2 separate regions of the Homo sapiens genome follow, and region 2 is linked to region 1. A link means that fine-mapping ties the variant in region 1 to the expression of a gene that starts in the linked region. Tissue or cell type: whole blood. Region 1 holds a variant in brackets; the other region holds the start of a gene. All regions are shown on one strand. Distances are from middle to middle.

Region 1 (5,383 bases):
CTTTGTAGGGACATGGATGAAATTGGAAATCATCATTCTCAGTAAACTATCACAAGAACAAAAAACCAAACACCGCATATTCTCACTCATAGGTGGGAAGTGAACAATGAGATCACATGGACACAGGAAGGGGAATATCACACTCTGGGGACTGTTGTGGGGTGGGGGGAGGGGGGAGGGATAGCATTGGGAGATATACCTAATGCTAGATGACGAGTTAGTGGGTGCAGCGCACCAGCATGGCACATGTATACATATGTAACTAACCTGCACAATGTGCACATGTACCCTAAAACTTAAAGTATAATAAAAAATAAATTAATTAATTAAAAAAAAAAATTTCAGTCTTTGAGGTTAAAAAAAAAACAAGCACACTCACACACACATTTAAACAAAAGTTGACATTTAAGAAAACAATGGCCGGGCGCGGTGGCTCACGCCTGTAATCCCAGCACTTTGGGAAGCCGAGACGGGTGGATCATAAGGTCAGGAAATCGAGACCATCCTGGCTAACACGGTGAAACCCCATCTCTACTAAAAATACAAAAAATTAGCCGGGCGTGGTGGTGGGCACCTGTAGTCCCAGCTACTCAGGAGGCTGAGGCAGGAGAATGGCAGGAACCCGGGAAGCAGAGCTTGCAGTGAGCTGAGATCACGCCACTGCACTCCAGCCTGGGCGACAGAGCGAGACTCTGTCTCAAAAAAAAAAAAAAAAAAAAAAAAAAAAGAAAACAGTGCTCACCATTAGAACATGAAGGACATTTTGGTCTCATACTGTTCTACTACTTTGTTCTTCTTAAAAAAACACTTGGTCAAAATCCACAACCCAGTAAAAGGTCCCAAGAAACAGTATGGAGAATATATCCGAAGACATACTTCTGAACACTCAACAGCTCCTAAAATCCTCCTAGGTAGAGACAAAGGCAAAAAACTGAAATAATAAATCCCCCTTCACCCCAATCATGTGTAAATACTTAGTTCCACTTCACCCACATCCATAAAATACACAATAAATGCTGGGGCTTTCATCTAATCAAGAACAACCTCAGGCAGTTTCTATTCAAATATAAATAATTATCCAGGCCCCAAAATTCTTCTCCTAGTTCCACAGGTAATGACTGGAAAATCTACAAACAACTTCAGCTAAAACTCCCTTATCACTCTTAACAAGTATGGCTCAAAGACAAAATTTCAATCTTTTCCAATTTTTTTTAAAGTAGGCAGGCAGCAAAATAAAACATCAGCAAAAGCTAAATGTGCTTGGATAAAGCACAATTAAATACATGTTTGTATTTTTCCAAAATGGACCACAGGTTGCTATTAAAAAGAGTAATAAAATCAATCTATAGAAACTAAATAGATAAGTGTTTGCCTGCGGGCACGGGATGTGGAGTGGCTGTAAATAGACACAGGGTGATGAAAATATTCTAAAATTAGATTGTGGTGATCACTGCACAACTCTGTAAGTTTACTAGAAATCACTGAATTGTACATTTAAAACAAGTGAATTTTAAGGTAAACTATATGGTGATTATTTATGGCAAATTATATATCAATAAAGCTTTTTTCTTAAAAAATGGAAACTATATGTTAGATTTTTTTTTTAATATCCAAGATACGTGTCAGTTAAAACAAGCAAAGTACAGAATAATGTGTATGACATGTTCCCATTTGAACTTTTAAAGTGATTGTATACATTACCTGCCTAGACATTTCTGGAAGGACACCCAGAGGCTGATCATAACAGCCGCTCTGGGAGAAATGGGTCTAGGCTAAGAGAGTTTGAGTTTTAATTGCATACTGTTTGGATTCATTTGCTTTGAACATGTATTATTTTTCATAAGTATGAAAATAAGATGGGTGGAAGCCCTCAGGAGTAGGACTCTTACAGCAGTACCAAGTTTATAACGGTGCTAGTTCATATTGTTCTTTGAGAAGGGGATAGTTTGGTCCTTCAGAATTTAAATATTTCAGCAAGGTAGGGTGGCCTGTAATTCCAGCACTTTGGGAGGCCAAGGCGGGAGGATCACTTGAGCCCACGAGTTCAATGCTGCAGTGAGTCATGATTGTGCTACTGCACTCCAGCCTGAGCGACAGAATGAGACCCCGTCTCTTTTCTTTTTTTTTTCTTTTTTTTGAGACAGAGTTTCACTCTTGTTGCCCAGGCTGGAGTGCAATGGCACGATCTTGGCTCACTGCAACCTCGCCTCCCAGGTTCAAGCAATTCTCCTGCCTCAGCCTCCCAAGTTGCTGGGATTACAGACATGCGCCACCACGCCCGGCTAATTTTGTATTTTTTGTAGAGATGGGGTTTCTCCATGTTGGTCAGGCTGGTGGTGAACTCCCGACCTCAGGTGATCCGCTCGCCTCAGCCTCCCAAAGTGCTGAGATAACAGGCATGAGCCACCGCGCCTGACCATGAGACCCTGTCTCTAATTATTTCTCAGTAGAAGTCTGCGTTAAAAGGTACCTGTGTTTGACAATAAGAGGCCAAGTGACAGAATCTTCCAACTGAAATCTGATTTCATAAAATCCAAGAGGAAGAGAATTTGAATGCCCTCTTAGGAGGAAAATGGGGTTCATATCATTTAGTCGTCTCCTTCGGCAGGTGCTGGAACACAACTCAAAGTGGCTTATGGTTTGCAATTATAAATCTGGGAAGAGATTAGATACATTATATCTGAGTACAGGACTATATGCATCTAGGGAGTTGAAAACATAGTCCTCATAGAGCTTTATCAAAAAGAAAAAGAATATGCAAATAAAAAACTAAAACTGAATCCAAAAAGGTAGCTGAACACCACACTCTCAAATGTTGTAACCAGACTTTTGACAACTGCTCAGATCCAGGCCTGGGTTCTACCATCTTGCCTCAGCTCATTTTTGGCTTTGGTTCCTAATTGAGCTCTTCACCTCGCTATTTAAGGACACTGGCTCTCTGAACATTGAGAAC[C/T]TGTGGCTCACCGCATCCTCCCCTCCCCACCTTAGGCTCATCCTGTCATCAGACGGCTTCCTGATTTACAAGGCCAAGGTAACCAAAATTTGGACCATAAAATATTAGTATTCTCAACTTTCAAACACGAGCCAACCAGATGACCTGTTTCCAGGATCATGGCAGCCCCTCCGACCCAGAGCCTCTCCTGCTAGTGGGGTCTTCTTCCTCCAGTGCCTCCACTGACAAAGGAGCCACCGTCTCAGCCACCCCATGAGTCTGCCTCCCGTGAGATTTCTACAACTGACACTGCAGCCCCCACTTCCACTCTCATCTATTTGTGCCACTTGGATTATTTCAACTATATTATTCAACACTCAGCCACCTGTATTTACTGAATGGCTGCTCTGCCTAAGACACTGGCAGGGAGGGGAGAAAATAAGGGTATTTTTACAGTAACAATTAGGACAGTGTTTTGTTTCTAATAGCAGCTTGAGAAATAATTCGCATACTATAAAATCCACTATTTTTTTATAAAGAGTATGGTTCACTGGTTTTTAGTATATTCACAGAGTTATGCAAACATCACCGCAATCTAATTTTCATACCCCAAAAAGAAACCCACATCCATCAGCAGCCTAGGCTAGTATTTTTATGAAAAAAAAAATTTTTTCAGAGTTTCAGACTTGCAAACTTTTAAAACATTTAAAATTATAAACTGTCCAGGTTATCCAAAGACTGTACAGTATATGGTCCAGATTAATACAGTTAATAATTACCCACTCTGGGGCATATGCAACTTCAAGGGCAGAGGTAAAGATTTGCCTTGGGGAAAAATTCAGCACAACCATGAAAATAACAAGTAGCAATAAACGGGGGGTGGGGGTGAGGGCGGGGAAGGGGTTGCATTTGGATAGCGCCTCCCAATGCACTTGAACACTATAGCTAACAATACTGCATTATACACTTAAAAATTTGTTAAGAGGTTAGATCTCATGTTAAGTGTATTATCAAAATCAAATAAAATACAACGGCGTTTTTCAATCCTCCTAACCATCTTGACAGGAATACAAGACATTTACAAATGGGGAGCCTGATGTTCGGGGGATGGATGCCTGACTCCCAGTCACCCAGCTAGGGGACCCCACCCGGCTCTTCTGATTATCTGGCAGAAGTGAGCAAAACAGCTCAATCCAGCAGGCTCCATGTTAGCAGTAAGCAACTCTAATTTCATATCTGACTGAAAAAAGAAAAGAAGCCTATTTATGCTCTCAACATAATAAAGCAGCCTTTGTTTTATGCTAAGGCCCTGGTGATTTTTTCAGCACCAGTCCAGCTGTGACACACAGACGCTGGTTCGATGCCTGCATAAATGCTTTCTCTTTGTTTAGTGGTGAGAACGTGAGACCTCACTAAGGCCCAAGTCCTGGGTTCTCCTGATGTCAACCCCACAAGTGAGTAGTGGAGCCTCACTGGCAAGGAGACCTACCTGTGCCTTTCCCAAATGCCTGGGAAGGTAGGTTAGAGTTAGAATCTTTTAATTAAAATGAGGTAAAATTCTAATTACTCCACAGTTGTCTCCAGAATAACATCATTTCCAACTCATCAAGTCTTATTAGAACCGGAACCACTGGGAACACCAGCTCCACCTTGTTAACTAAAGAAAACAGCTCGCTTTTTCCAGGAACATTAACTCTTTTTTCAGACATAAAGTAGTATTTAATGGTTTTGCTTATTAGTCTCCAAGCCATTAATGACCTGAAAGAGATTAAACAACTTTTGAAAAGTAATCCATTGTAAGTAACAACGGTTAAGGCTTCCTTGTAGCTACGAAAAACACCCAGAGTGCAGGACACTCACTTAAAATTAACACTGACTTGGATGCACACCACACACAAACAAATACAACTCCCACATGTAATCTATTTTTATATGAATTGGTTGAAGGTGGTAACAAATTCTAAACAATATGATGTACGTAAAAGGGTTAGCTGCACCGCACTCTAGGAAACTATTGCACCAGCTTCTACTCCTGCACCACTTAGCAACAGGAAAACGATGGGGAAACACTACCAAACTAACGAGTGGGTCACCTCAGATTTGATTTAACCCTAAACTCAACAATCTCAGGAAGTTCTGTCATACCGGCAGGAAGAACAGACCAAGAGGAGCATTTTCAGGGGCAATACAACTCGTGTGTGTGTGTGTGTGTGTGTGTGTGTGTGTGTAGAAAGAGTATCAATCATGACATTATGAGGCATGGATGAACCACACCACCCAGTGTTAGCAACACGTGGATCATCTGTGGCTCTGTGCATGTGTCACTTTCCACAGTTACATACAAAATGTAACTCCACTACTAGACTAAGCTGTTTGAAGGTTAATTCCACATCACATTCATACTCCATGCAACTCACGACACATCAGCCTCACCTCCCAGACATCACTCCT
Region 2 (5,383 bases), 33 kb after region 1:
CTGCTCTTGGACACTTTCCTCACTCATCTTAGGCAGTCAACACATATTTCTAAGCACCTACTGTGTGCACTGGTAACATAAAGATGAAAAGGCAGGTAGGCAGGTGGAAGCAAGAGTAAGGAATGGCCAGGTGGTTTTGTTTTGTGTTTGTTTGTTTTTTGAGATAGAGTCTCGCTCTGTCGCCCAGGCTGGAGTGCAGTGGTTTGATCTAAGCTCACTGCAACCTCTGCCTCCCAGTTTCTAGTGATTCTCCTGCCTCAGCCTCCTGAATAGCTGGGACTACAGGCCGGTGCCACCGCGCCGAGCTAATTTTTGTATTTTTAGTAGAGACAGGGTTCCACCTTGTTGGACAGGGGTCAAACTCCTGGCCTCAAGTGATCTGCCTGCCTCAGCTTCCCAAAGTGCTGGGATTACAGGTGTGAGCCACCGCACCCAGCCTTGGCCACGTTGTTCTAACACAGCAAAGCTTTGGAGTAAATGAACTGACCCTCCCAAGGCAGTGCCTCTTCTTTCATTCGGAGCAGAGTCCTCCACCTCACCCAAAGAACATATGGGAAAATTATAGACACGAAAAGACTCATCTTACAAGATAAAGATTTGAAAAAAATATGTCTTAGAATTAGACACTTAAACTAGTCCTATAAAAACTACACAAGAAGTTGGAATACTGCAGTGCTACCAATGACTGTTGATTCTTACCACCCAAGCTAGAACACAAACACTACTAAAACTAGTTACTCCACTCACGTAAGTAAAACACAGCCGTTTAATTTACTTTGACAAGTACCAAACATAGTTATTCTAAAAACATCATTATGTCAAACGACAGTGTGTAACAGATTAGTATACAAATACACATGGGCACGTTTGTCGTCATGTCTCCCCCGTCCTGCGTCGCCCCCATTGAAAGCCAGACAGACATAATGCTGACTTACATGGTGGCCCCTAAGCCGGCTAACAATATATACAAGACATGTGACAAGCTTTCTAACTCAAACATTTGCATGTCTACTATGTACAAGTCATCATGTTATCCCACTCAGGACAACCAAAGATGAAATGTTTCTAACCTCAAGAAGCTTAAAATTTAGATAATAATATGTATGTGTATATATACGTTATACAGGTAATGTATAATATATATATACACATAGGTAACACATATAAAGCATATTGTATGTAATGTTTGTAAGCACTTGTGTTAAGTCTGAAATTAATCTGAAGGGGAGCGAGGAAAGAGCTGAAAGACTCCAAAGAGTCTATCTTACAAGTAAATGAAAGTAAAGTACAGGCCTGGCCCAGTGGCTCACACCTGTAATCCCAGCACTTTGGGAGGCTGAGGCGGGTGGATCACCTGAGGTCAGGACTTGGAGACCAGCCTGGTCAACATGGAGAAACCTCTGTCTCTACTAAAAATACAAAATTAGCCGGGCTGTGGTGGCGCACACCTGTAATCCCAGCTACTTGGGAGGCTGAGGCAGGAGAATCACTTGAACCAGGGAGGCAGAGGTTGCAGTGAGCTGAGATCCCGCCACTGCACTCCAGCCTGGGCTACAGGTGGAGACTCAAAAAAACAAACAAAAAAAACACCAGAGTCTGAAAAAAATAAAGTACAAGATAGTATATTTGGAATATGGTTTGATTTACATAAAAATGCACACATGACGGCACATACTGGAGGAAAATAAGCAATACATGAAAACTTGTGTCAGGGCTCAAAACAGGAGTGATTCCTATCCTCACTTCCCAAGATTACCTACCTTGTTTTCTTTTTTCAGCATTTATGTATCTTTTTAAAAGCGTGCCACACACATCTGCGTACAGTCACAGGCTTATGATCAGCAGAGATCTCTAGGATGAAACTATTTAAATCTGAAAACCATGGCCTACTATTGCTCTATTTGGGGGTAATTTCACTTGAGCTGTTTTCAGAAGCAAGTGCACCCAACGCTATGGTAAATTAGACTGAAGGTTTTGTGTTGTGGGATTTCACCCTTCCTACGAAAAGCTCTCTTCCCTCAAACCCACAGACACCACTCCACAATCTGGGGGTTTCTAGTATGATAAATATCTGCCTCCCAAACCCCCCATGGGTCATACGCCACCAAAAATCCTAACCACCTGAACTTAGAAGAAGGCAGAAAGTCTTAATTTATGAGGGAGAGAGGGGTTTCCCACCTGGAGGGACGAGAGCGACTCACTGTCCTCTGTTCCTGGTTCCAGTCACTTACAGGAGCTGGCTGCGCCGTGCTCCCTTCACGCGGCTTTCCACCCAAAGCGCATCACGGCCGCCAGCCCCTGACGCTAGCCCCTTCGCCACCTCCCAGAACCTTCTCTCCCTCTCCCCCACACACGCACACTCACACTCACACATGCAGTCCCATCTGCCCCCGCCAGAGCCGCTCCTTCCAGGGCCCCAGGATGCCAGATCCGGATCCGGGAGATGCAACTTGCGGCGCCGGCCCAGGAGGCTCGGCACCTGCTCGAGCCGCCGGGCCGCGCTCAGCCCCGCGCCGAGCCAAAGCCCGAGTCCAAGCCCGAGTCCAAGCCCGAGCCCAAGCCCGCTGGGTCCGCGCCCTCACCTTGCTCGCCGCGGTCCATGTCTCCAGCCCGCCGCCTCGTGTCCTCTGCAGCACCCCCGCCTGCAGCCCGTCCCGGCTCGGATCGCCCGCCGCGCCGCGCAGAGCTCCTCCTCGCCTCCGCCGGCGACTCCCGCGAAGTCCCCACCCCCAGAGGCGTCGGGCGCGGCGGCGCCGCCCGCCCTCGGCCTGGAGCGCTTTCCTGGGGCGTCACCCAACCACCTGACCCGGTCGACCTGTGCGCTCCGCCACGTCGGCGCGGGCGGCGCAGCGCTAGGAGGGCCGGGCGCACCCCGACTCCCGCACCGGCTGGAAGTCGGCCGGGAGGAGGGAAGAGGACGGCGAGGAGATGGACTCGGCCATGGAGGCTGCGTGGAGCCTGCTTGGGAACCGGGATGGCGTTTGCCTTCCACCATCAAGTTATTTATAAAATCAAAAGTTTCCTCCGAGGCCTTGGAGATGCCCTTTCTCTGCATCTGCGAACACCTACTTTCCTATACTTACAGTAGGAAACACAGGAACGTTATTTAGAAATGCCAGTGGCTCTTTTCTCTCTGTATTTTATTACCTAAATAATGCCCTATGATGTCTTCTCTAACTAGGTCATAAACCAGCATAGGTGAAAATTGCAAAGAATCTCTTGAAAAATTATATAGTCTTTTCCATAGAATGCGGATTTTTTAGGTGACTAGGAAGATTTTCATATAATAAAAATCTGTTTTGAGTGCGGGACTGAGGACAACACTAAAATGAATTAAATCAAATGAAATTAATTAAATTAACCGAAGGTCAGAATTATCAGCAGAGATCTTTGGAAAATGCGTGTTGAGGCGTCATGTCCGTTGATCAAAGGACAGTTTGAGGTTCCCGTAACAATCCAGTTCTTTTCATTAGTAGCGTTAACAATCTGTTTTCACAGGGTTTTGCAGTTACTCGTCTTCCATGAAGTCACTTTGATTGTATGGGTCATGGTCTTCAGGTGGTGTCTCAATTTCGTAAGCTATCTGAGGCTGCAAATGAAGTGGGGCTTCTTTTCTGTGTTGCTTGACGTTTAGGCCGAAGCATTGTGTAGCACTCCACAGACAACAAAGAAGCACTTATTCAGATGTTTTAAAATTACTTGTAGTTACCTGAAGTGACTGTATGCTATTAATATCTCTATACTGTCGTGCTGTATGTAAAGTGTAGCTCTCTCCAGCCTGCATCTTCCAGTGTCTTCTGGGGACGTTTACTGTTTGACTCAACCAGATGTGATCTCTTCTATTTGAGTCCTTCTACTCTGACTGCACTTGGCTCCTCTCCTGTGGCACTCACCCCAGCACTGGTGCCAGGATGCTACCAGTGTATGTTTCACAGTCCTATTAGGTTACAAGCTCCAGGTGGTAAAGTCCTTAAAATGGCCTATTAAAAAAATCAAAAAACAGGCCTGGCACGGTGGCTCACGCCTGTAATCCCAGCACTCCGGGAGGCCAAGGCGGGTGGATCACTTGAGGTCAGGAGTTTGAGACCAGCCTGGCCAACATGGTGAAACCTTGTGTCTACTAAAAATACAAAAATTGTCGGGCGCGGTGGCTCACGCCTGTAATCCCAGCACTTTGGGAGGCCGAGGCGGGCGGATCACGAGGTCAGGAGATCGAGACCATCCTGGCTAACACGGTGAAACCCCATCTCTACTAAAAATACCAAAAATTAGCCAGGTGTGGTGGCGGGCGCCTGTAGTCCCAGCTACTCGGCAGGCTGAGGCAGGAGAATGGCATGAACCCGGGAGGCAGAGGTTGCAGTGAACTGAGATCACGCCACTGCACTCCAGCATGGGCAACAGAGTGAGACTCCATCTCAAAAAAAAAAAAAAAAGTTCCAGGTGGGCAAAGATTATTTTGGTCATCTCTGCATCCTTTAATTCTACCATGCAATTAATAAATATTGTAATTTTAAACCAGGCATGGTGGTGTTTGCCTGTAAACCCAGCTACTCAGGAGGCTAAGGCAAGAGGATTGCTTGAGCCCAAAAAGGTGCAATATTTTTTAAAAAATTTTTAATGTAACATAAAGGTAAATTTTGGCATCAGCAGAAAATTCTGTATGTGGTAAAGAATTTTTGACTAGCTGATGCTGAGATCTATTGTATAGAAATAAACATCTGGAGAGACAATCTCTCAATGTACTAATTTGTGGACAAATAAATAGCACTTGAACGTGAGTGTCCGTTACAAATATTTATTGTTTGTATCTGTTTAACTTACTATATAGTGATGAACTTGTTATGTATGCTGAAAGGAAAAAAAGTCTTATCTTTTGAAGAGCTTATAGAGTAGTTCACATGCAGCAGAGATGGCAAATAGCCTACCTGATAAACAGCCTTCCTGTTTTCCTTCCTAAGATAACCTAAATATTGTTTGGAGTGGCAATGTGCCCAGCTGAAACACTGGGCACTTCAAACTGCCTTGCAGCTGGAGGTGGGTCTCTCTCATTAATGTCCAATGAGATGTGAGCAAACTGTACTAATTGGAATCTCCAAGAAAGCATTTAAAAAGAAGACAGACTTGGCAGCATTACTTGGCCCTTCACCCTTCCCATTCCTGCTTAGAGGGGCAATAGCCATTTTGCAAACACGAGGAAGAAATTCACAAGCCAAGGACGGCAGAAAGAACCCAAGAATCCATGGCATCAGAGACCTGCTTCTTACTGGAAAAAAATAAATGCCTGACTTTGTAAGGCCACTGTAGTTGGCTTTCTGTTAGATGGAGCCAAATGCAATCCCAACTGATAGAATGCGCCATATAGAAAATGCACTCTGGCATGCAC

The links. PIP is the estimated chance that this variant, and not a neighbour inherited with it, causes the effect.
Region 2: it holds the start of TPD52, and the variant in region 1 is fine-mapped to the expression of TPD52 in whole blood (TOPMed, PIP above 0.99). The same link has a PIP of 0.9 or more in blood mononuclear cells.

Annotation. Positions count from the first base shown.
Region 1 is chr8:80,135,825-80,141,207 of GRCh38, forward strand. All of the region lies in intron 1 of TPD52-MRPS28 (TPD52-MRPS28 readthrough), which reads right to left. All of the region lies in intron 1 of TPD52 (tumor protein D52), which reads right to left. Among named protein-coding and RNA genes, the nearest start is that of TPD52, 33 kb to the right of the region's middle. RefSeq lists an enhancer at 2,755-2,804. The variant C/T (reference allele first, on the strand shown) is at 2,954.
Region 2 is chr8:80,168,843-80,174,225 of GRCh38, forward strand. It overlaps TPD52 (tumor protein D52), which reads right to left and starts at 2,722. Exons shown (of 8, transcript NM_001025253.3): 1 at 2,583-2,722. The coding sequence starts at 2,601. It overlaps TPD52-MRPS28 (TPD52-MRPS28 readthrough), which reads right to left and starts at 2,722. Exons shown (of 7, transcript NM_001387778.1): 1 at 2,583-2,722. The coding sequence starts at 2,601. RefSeq lists a silencer at 2,554-2,883.